Regions from separate parts of the Homo sapiens genome. Here all the other regions are linked to region 1. The links come from fine-mapping of genetic effects on gene expression. A gene starts in region 1. Each other region holds a variant in brackets. All regions are shown on one strand. Distances are from middle to middle.

Region 1 (2,761 bases):
TTCTGTCCTAGCCCTGGATGCACGTGCAATGAATCCCGAGGTGGGAGAGTCTGGGAACTAGGCATTCATGCCCTGTGTGCCCTCATCCGTGGATGGACTTGGAGCCCTGGAGCCACCTACCCACTCACCCATGAGCCAAGTAGTCATAACAGACCAGCAACAAGTCCCACTAAAATCTCTAGGGAGGTGTTGCCAAGGTCCACTTAGCGTGTCCTGGCTTCTCCCTGTATTTCCCTCCTCATGACTCCCTTCCCACTCCCTTCCCTCTCGGAGCCCTGAGCTGGTCAGCAACACTTACTTCTCTTTGCTGTGTTTACTGCCCCACTCGAACTTGCCAGTACTCCCAGTATCGCAGCCCAGCTCTGATTTGTGAAGAAAGATCCCCAGACGTGTCTTGAACTCTTTGGCTCTGAAAAACAAATCAGGAACATGAAAGCATTCTCTCATTTGCTCAGCCAGTGTGGAGAGGTTTATGGGTCCCAGAAGAGCTCTGGGTGGTGCCACCCAAACTTTAGCCTCAAGAGTTCCTGGAAACTCTTGGCTGTCCCCAGGCCAAGAGTGCTTCTCTTATCAGCATCATCAACCCCAAAGCAACAAAAGCAATGTTTGAGCTATGCTGTGGTAGGTCTTACACTTTCTGGGTAATACACACGCTGCATATATGGGCTTTTCCCTAAAGTCACACTGATCTCTCTTCGTGCCTGTTGATTCAGAAAAGAACTCAGCATTCTTTTCAGAAGTATTTCTGAACTGTGTGGGAAACTGATTCCTGCCTTCATCTTTACTTTTTCCTTCCCAGCCAGTAAGGATTGGAAGCTGTTGAGTAGCTCTCTGGAATATGGACACACCCTCAACAGTGGGAGCCCCCACCCCCACACACCCCACCAAAAAAAAAAAAATCTCCCTGTCTTCCAGGGGCAGAGGAGGCAATGCCCCTAGCTCTGGTCTGAGGAATGAAAAACAAATGCTTAAGAAATGGGCAGGCTCAGTGCTGCCTGGAAATGTCAACGTGGCCTTCCCGCAGCCGGGTCTTCAGCAGGTCACCTGAGCACGACTGCAGTTTGTCAGAGGATGGGGATGGCAGCAAGCCGCGGGCCCTTGCTTCCCTTCCCCTTGCTTTCTCCCTGCTCCTGGAATCTGAGCACGTGGCATCAAGTGCGCTTCTACCTCTCTACTCAAGCCTCTAGCGCCCCATCCCCGCGCCCACCCAGGTCCCCAGGCCTGCCGCTCCACTCCCTAAGAGTTGGTGGGACTTCCCCCAAGCAGTTGGACAACCTCCCCTTACCTCTCCAGGCAGGTGGTGGGGAAGGCGGCCAGGGTGCGGCACATGGCTGCGGGCGCAGGGCAGCACGTAGTAGGCAGGATGGTGGCAGGCTCCAGGAGGCTCCGCGTGCGCCAGGAAGCAAAGGCGCGGTAGCAGGTGCTAGTCAACTGCGGTTGGGTTTAGCAGCCTGCAAGCGCCCAGACTGAGCGGCCGCTGCTTTAAATCCCCTCGGAGGAGCGGGGCGGGGCTGGGCACTGCTGACCAATCGGAGGGTGGGGCTGGGCGCTGAGAAGGCGGAGGCGGGGCCCGCAGCCAGACTGGGCCGGGTGCAACTTTCGCGGCAGCTGGAGCACGCGGAGCTGCACCCTCCGCCCAGAGGACGCCGCGTGTGGAAGGAAAAGCGGCAAGAGAATTGGCACGGGGATGAGACGTGCACACCCAGTTTCCTAGGGAAAAGTACCTGCCGACCTCTAGTAACAGCAGGAAAGTCACGCAGCGGTGTCGTGTTGAGAGAGTTTGCACGGGGGTGGTGGGTCTGGGAGGCACACAGGGCTTTCTTTGATCGCAGGCAAGTCTGAGCCTGCTGGGTCCTGAGGACAGGCGCACAGGGTGCAAACCTGGGCAAAACAGCATCTGATTATACTGATAAGTACCCTTTACGAGGCTCTTACCATGATGGACACGGGGCTAAGTAAGCTCTTCATCATCATCTCCATTTTATAGATGAAGAAATCGAGAATCAGAAAGCTAAATAAACTTGTCCAAGATCACAGTTGGAGATGACAGAAAAGTGGAATAGGGATGAGTAGTTTATTGAACACCTACTATGTGCTAGGCACATAAGTAAGACTTGCTCAAAGTCTTAGTTATTAAATAACTTGCTCAAAGATGTGCAGCTAGTAAGTGTTGGCTCCAAAATTCAAATGTGAATTTGCCATTCTTTTTCCATTGCACACACACACACACACACACACACACACACCACACACACACACAAAGGTTAGTACCCGGTCACGGCTATACCTGTGGACGATCCTGGGTTTAAGCAGTTAATACCTTATTGTCTCCATCTCTGACATAAAGGTAATAAATGCCCTTCCTCTCACCTCATCTTCCCATAAAGGCATTGGGATTGCTATTAAGAGGCTGTATGTGAGGTTAAAAGTACAGGGTCTAGAGTTAGATTTTCAGGTTTCAAGTCATGGCTCTGCCAGGTGACCTGCTGAAGACCCAGCTGCAGGAAGGCCACGTTCACTGTTAACTGGCTACTGATGGGAGACGAGGCAAACTGCTTAACCTTTCTATGCCTCCATTTCCTTGTCTCTACGAAGAGAACAACTTATTTCATAAGGTGGTTGTGAGAACTAAATAAATTAATTCTTAGTTTGAGTTCCTAGGAACTAGACTCGGGTAGACACTTGCATGCAGGAGGTTTACTGGGGAGAGTTATCAGAATTAAGAGGGAGTAAAGAAAGCAGGTCTGGGCAGAGGGAGGAG
Region 2 (2,761 bases), 20 kb after region 1:
TCTGCATTCCTTAGGGTTCTGCTCACTGTTTCTGCTCACAGATTCCATGGGGTGTTCCAGTATTCTCACCAAAACTCCCTTTTATTCATGCTGGTTTGAGTTGAATTTCTGTTGCAAACCAAAATTTCTCTAATAATAGAAGGGGACTCCCCCACTTCTCCTTCCTGTATAGGCAGCAGAAAAAGAAATCTGACTATATTCCCTGGTCTGGCAAGATGTTCGATAAGTCTAAACCTGGAAAAAAACCCCAAAGAGTCCCTAGGGTTGCATCAAAATATAACCTGGCTCTGGGCCCAGGACAGAGCAGCTCTGGCTTCCTAGCGAAGGGTTAGGACTGTGGGAAGGAATGAAAGGAAGGACCGGAAAGGCTGAGGTCCTGGACTGGAGGGGGAGGTGAGAGCATCTGCAGCTGAGGCGCATTCAAGCTTGAAGTGCAGGGGATGTGGTGGGAGGTCAGGAGAGTGGTATGGGGAGAGGACCAGTAGCCATGGCAACAGGAGGGTCTTCCTTTGCCACTGAGGCAAAGGTGAACTCGGGGGGAGGTAGCCAAGCAAGGTATAGGGAGAGGCCAAGTAAGTGGTGGTCTTTGCCATCCATTGATTGTGTCCTTTCCTGCCCATTGTATGCTGGGCAGCAACATTTTAGGCATGGGAATGAAAGACTCGATTTTTCAGGGACGCGGCTATAGAGGTGAGTCATGGAACTATGGGGTATTCCCATTGTGCTCCCTTAGGTACAGGTGGCTGAGGAGTCCTCGGTCAGCAGGTGAAAGCATCATTCAAAGCTACAATTGAGGCAAATACCAGTGATTACAGCTGATTGAGGAACCTAAGAAGACTTCATGGAGGAAGTGGACCTTGAAGGATGGATAGGATTTAAACATTTAAAGGCCAAGCTTTACAGGATACTGTAGCTAGATATTATTCCTTTTTGTAGCTCTACCTCTCACAGCTCTAACACAGCAGATGCTCAAAAATGTTTGCTTAACTGAATTGGATTCCAGGTATAGGAAACAGTATAAGTAAAGTCAAGGGATGAGAAAGGGAGTGGGGTGTTATGTGTTGAGGCCTCAAGGAGAAATCCTGTTTGTTGGTTATAGCAGGCACAAAAGGAATCAGTCAACAGAAGATATGCTGAAAAAGAAAGCTGAGGCCAGAGCTGAAACTTGGAGATGGCTGATGAGTCCTCCAGCTCCCTGAGGACAGGGAGAGGCCAGGACATTTATCCTGGCCTGCCTAGTGATGGGCTCAGGGCCTATTGCAGGATAGGTGCACAAAAACTATTTAAATGAATGAAAGAATATAAAAAGTCACCCATTAGCAAAAAGTTCACCACTGTGTTCCTTCAAATCCAATGTCCTGTAGTCCATTTAATTTAGGACTCGGTGCACATAAATTAGTTTGCACAAAATTTTTAGAATGAAAACCATGGATGTAATAACTGCTTTAGAACATGAATCTGGGTCTGAATCCCACTTAACCTTTCAGGGCAACACTTCTTTTTGATTCCTATGTTTTCATGAGAAGGGGTTGCCCTAAAGTTATAATTGTG[A/G]CTTCTCTCCCCAACTTTCCCCCTAAATCTAGTAAGCCCTACCCATAGAAGTAGCAACTCATTGCTTGGTGAGTTTAGAAAAAGGAACCAGACATACTCACTTCTCTTCAGGAGTGGCCTGTCCCCAGGAGACCCACAATTCCTACTCTATGGTAAGTTTAGTGGAGCCTGAGAGGAAGTCTGCAGTTTGAGAATTAAGTTCAATTCAGGAGAATCTGTTAGCACACCCATTTGGCAGCATGTGGCTCTTAGCCAAGCCCTCAAAACCAGCTTTTTCTGTAATAAAGCTGACGTTTTCATCATCAGGTATCTGACTCCTGTGTCAAAGGGTTCTGAACTCAGGAAGTGAGTGAAAAGCAGAGGTGTTAGTTACTGGCTCCCTCAAACCCCAGCTATTACTGGCTTGAGAATTTCCTTACCAGGAAAATGGATATGATGATAATATCCGTCATGTAGAGTTTAGTGAAGATTGAAAAAGATAATATGTTTGATGTTCGGTAAATGTTTGTTCTCTTTACTTCCCTGTTTGAAACCCTCTCTTTTAAGCATTTTCCCCATGAAGGCAGGGGGATATTGTACCCCTCTGCATATATCCCCTCTATATGTCTAGCATGTATTTGGATGTTCTGTAAATGTTAAAAAGGTGGAAATGATTATTGCAGGGAGGCCCAGCAAGTGAGTCATTTATGCCCATATTTTTTAAAATAGCTTTAGTGAGGGATAATCAACATACAGTTAACATGGTTGAAGTGGACAACTTGACAAGTTTTGACATAGGCAAACACCTAGTGAAATCATCACAATCAAAAGAGTGGGCGCATCCACTATCCCGAAAGTCTCTCATGCCTCTGTGTAATCCCTGCTCCCCTCCTCCCCACCCTCCTAGCCCCAGGCAACCACTGATCTGCTTTCTGTCACTATGGATTAGTTTGCATTTTTTAGAGTTGTATATAAATGGAATCATATAGTATATTCTCTCTCTTCTTTTTTGTCTGTCTGCCCATATTTTTGAAGAGCAATAAGCACTCATCATTGAATGCTGAAATACTGATCTTGGAGCCCAGAGTCCAGGACTGTTGTTCTGGTTAGACAGCAACATGTTGTTTGACCTTAGACAAGTCATATAACCTTTGTGTGCCTCAATTCCCCTTATCTGCACTATGGTAGGGAATAATTGTGTCTGCTCTACCCCCCAGATTTATTTAAGGTG
Region 3 (2,761 bases), 96 kb after region 1:
ACTCCACCAGTCCTAAGAAAAGGGCAGAGTTGCCCCAGCTAGAGTCAGGTGCTTATCATCATTTTGTTTAACCTTGAAATAATTCTTACTTCGTAAGCACAGAATTCACTGCATAAATTAGACCAAGGGGAATTAGAACAATGTGTGTGTGACTGTGTGCACACATGTCTCCGTAATGAATGTGGAGTTACATATATTCAGCACGTCTGTGTAAGCGCCCAGAGACTTATTGTATGCCTGAAAAATAGAGCCCAGAGAGGCATAAAGCTATTTATTTGGAAGAAATTAGACTGTTTTTTATGATTCTGAAAAGGTTAAGGCAGAAGATAGGTGGCTGCGTAGAGGGAGTTATGACTTGCGCATTTTGATTCATCTTTTCTTATTAAAAGCCGCCTCTCCAGCTGCTGTACTTTCATCACCCTGCATGCCTCCATCCCTGGGCCAGAGGGGTTTCCACATCACCACAGAGGCAGGCCTTCCTTCATTTTATTTATTCCATTTGGGATTAAACACATTGAAAGGGGGCCATGGCTAAATGGGTGTTTCTCGCCTGGCTCGGTACTTAGAAATCAAAGAAGGAGCTTCATGGTGTATGTGGAAGGGGATGGAGTGTAGAGAGGAGGAGGTGGTTTCTGCAGACAGGCAGCTCTTCCCATCTTCCCAGGAGCAAAGATTAGTTCCCTGGGCCCAGGCCTCAGTGGCAGGGGGCCAAGGAAAGCAGGCCCAAGGCCTTTCCTAACTCTTAGCCCCCAGGGATTGGCACATGCCACGGGGAAAGTGAAAAACATTTTACAAAACAGGCTAGACACGTGCCACATAGCTGTGTCCTTAGAAACTTCCACACAGATCCCTGTTGGAGGCTCTTCTCCCTGTGCTGTGGCTCCCCAAAGCCTGCTTCGTTGCTGCAGGGACCTTAAGAATCCGAGGGGATTCACAGAGCCCTGGGGATTGCAACGGGATTACCGGGGAGGGATACAGGCAAAATCCCCTGAGAGGCCTGCAATGTGCTGCAGGCCTGGGGCCTTCCTGGCAGGATGGATATCTCTATTCCTGGAGCCAAAAGTTCTGGGATCTGCAGAAAGGGATCCCTCGGGGACTATAATGAATGCCGTGTTCCAGCAGTGCCAGCTCGGTTCAGCTGCTTGATTAATGACATATGAGAGGTCTCACGGCAAATTTAACAGGAGGGCGCACCCTCACACAGTGCCTGCCCTGGATAAGATCCGGCACCTCACACCCTGCAGGAGACTGGAGGGGCTCACAGAACTCCTTCCCGAGCTCGGGATCCAGGGCGAAGCCTGTGAAGAGCCCGCCTGGGTCTCAGGTTCTGAGTCTTGAGTGCATAACAATGCGCCCCAGAGCCCGCCGAGGGGAGAACTAGCTCCATCTGCTCCTTCCCAATTCTCGGCTCCGGCGAGGGGGAGGGGGATCCCTCGGCGGTTAGGCCGGGTCCTGCACGGTTATTGGCTGACACATTTTCAAAGCTACTCTCAAAGGCTTTTATGAAAATGCTGTTGCCGGGCAGCAGCTGAAGCCATTTGCCCTAGAAAATGGATGGAAGCAGGTGTAACCACTCACCCCA[A/G]CATGACCCCCAAAACATTCCCCGCGACACACACGCTAGTCTACAGTGTGTTACTTTGTCCCTGTATATTTCAATAAGCGCACCAATCTGACACCTCAGCATTCCTCCCCGAAAACGTAACCATGAGCATTGTTCTTCCTGGTTTCTCTTTCAAGAGAAAGGAGGTGCCAGTCCAGGGTGGTATTCCAAGAGACACCCCAGGTTCAGCCTCGGGCTGCCTCTGGCGGCAGAAGACACAGGGTGCATCTTCCGTCTTCTAATTCCCATAGCTTTCAGGAGATAGCAGAATTGCTGGAAGTCATGAGTGTCTTAGAAAGACTGAATGCTTTTTGTTAGAGTTCTCATTCTACTAAGTACACAAAACCGAACAGCATTTAAAAATTAATGCAATGTCTAATTTTTGTTAACTGATGAAATTTCATATTTCAAAGTGCTTTGAATTTGAAGCTTTGTATTCAAAAGGACTCTTACAATCATCTAATTTGATCATCATGATAGTCCAGTGGACTACTTACATTGGAGGAAATTAAGACACCAGAAAAAAGTAATTATTTAAGGATTCATCATGTGTAACATAGCAGAACTGGGATTCAAGTGCAAGTTTTCCAAATCCCAGTCCAATATTCTAAGCTTCCCCATTGTAATGAATGAGTTACATATATTATGAATCATTGTAACAAATTCATCATATAAATTTACCCAACATGTTTGTCATGTTTTCTTGAGAAGGTTTTAAATGTGTCAAATGTGACATTTAGGTCCTCTTCTTCACCTACTTGTAGCTCCATCCCAAATGAGGCAAATAAGTGAAATTAATGGCATGGGGCGGAATAGCAGGGTTTTGAGTTGATGGACAACAGGCAACCATTGCATTTCTTTGAGCAGAATTGTGACATCATAAATCAGCATTTTAGGAAACCTCATTGGGCAGCAGGCATCAGATGACTTCTGTGACTTCCTAAGTAGATATTACATGTATCCATGACTTCCTAAAGAAATTCAGTTCTTCAATATTGTTATCCAACCCCTAAGTGATAATAGCAATGGGAATTTCAGGCCAGGTCAAAGGCACAGGTCACTGAGAGATGACTCCAAGGAAAGGCAGGGTGGAGTTATCAGCTCCCTTGAGTCATATCCATGTCCAGCTTTCCTTTGAGACAAATGTAACTTTTTGTCCCT

Alleles and levels. Alleles are on the strand shown, and positions count from the first base shown. SD is a standard deviation of normalised expression in the study named. Not every link is listed here.
With allele G in place of A in region 3, the expression in fibroblasts of the gene that starts at base 1,459 in region 1 is higher (large effect, 0.76 SD a copy in GENCORD).

Evidence for each region. PIP is the estimated chance that this variant, and not a neighbour inherited with it, causes the effect. A credible set is the group of variants that fine-mapping cannot tell apart.
Region 2: its variant is the best candidate, but not a certain one, in a credible set for the expression of RGS16 in whole blood (TOPMed, PIP 0.54).
Region 3: its variant is the best candidate, but not a certain one, in a credible set for the expression of RGS16 in fibroblasts (GENCORD, PIP 0.52).

What each region holds. Positions count from the first base shown.
Region 1 is chr1:182,602,931-182,605,691 of GRCh38, forward strand. RGS16 (regulator of G protein signaling 16) reads right to left here and starts at 1,459. Exons shown (of 5, transcript NM_002928.4): 1 at 1,286-1,459; 2 at 299-409. The coding sequence starts at 1,329. RefSeq lists enhancers at 1,024-1,083, 1,174-1,223, 1,694-1,773.
Region 2 is chr1:182,622,981-182,625,741 of GRCh38, forward strand. No RefSeq gene overlaps it. Among named protein-coding and RNA genes, the nearest start is that of LINC01686, 9.2 kb to the left of the region's middle. The variant A/G (reference allele first, on the strand shown) is at 1,552.
Region 3 is chr1:182,698,746-182,701,506 of GRCh38, forward strand. It overlaps a transcript of RGS8 not described here. Among named protein-coding and RNA genes, the nearest start is that of LINC01688, 13 kb to the right of the region's middle. The variant A/G (reference allele first, on the strand shown) is at 1,583.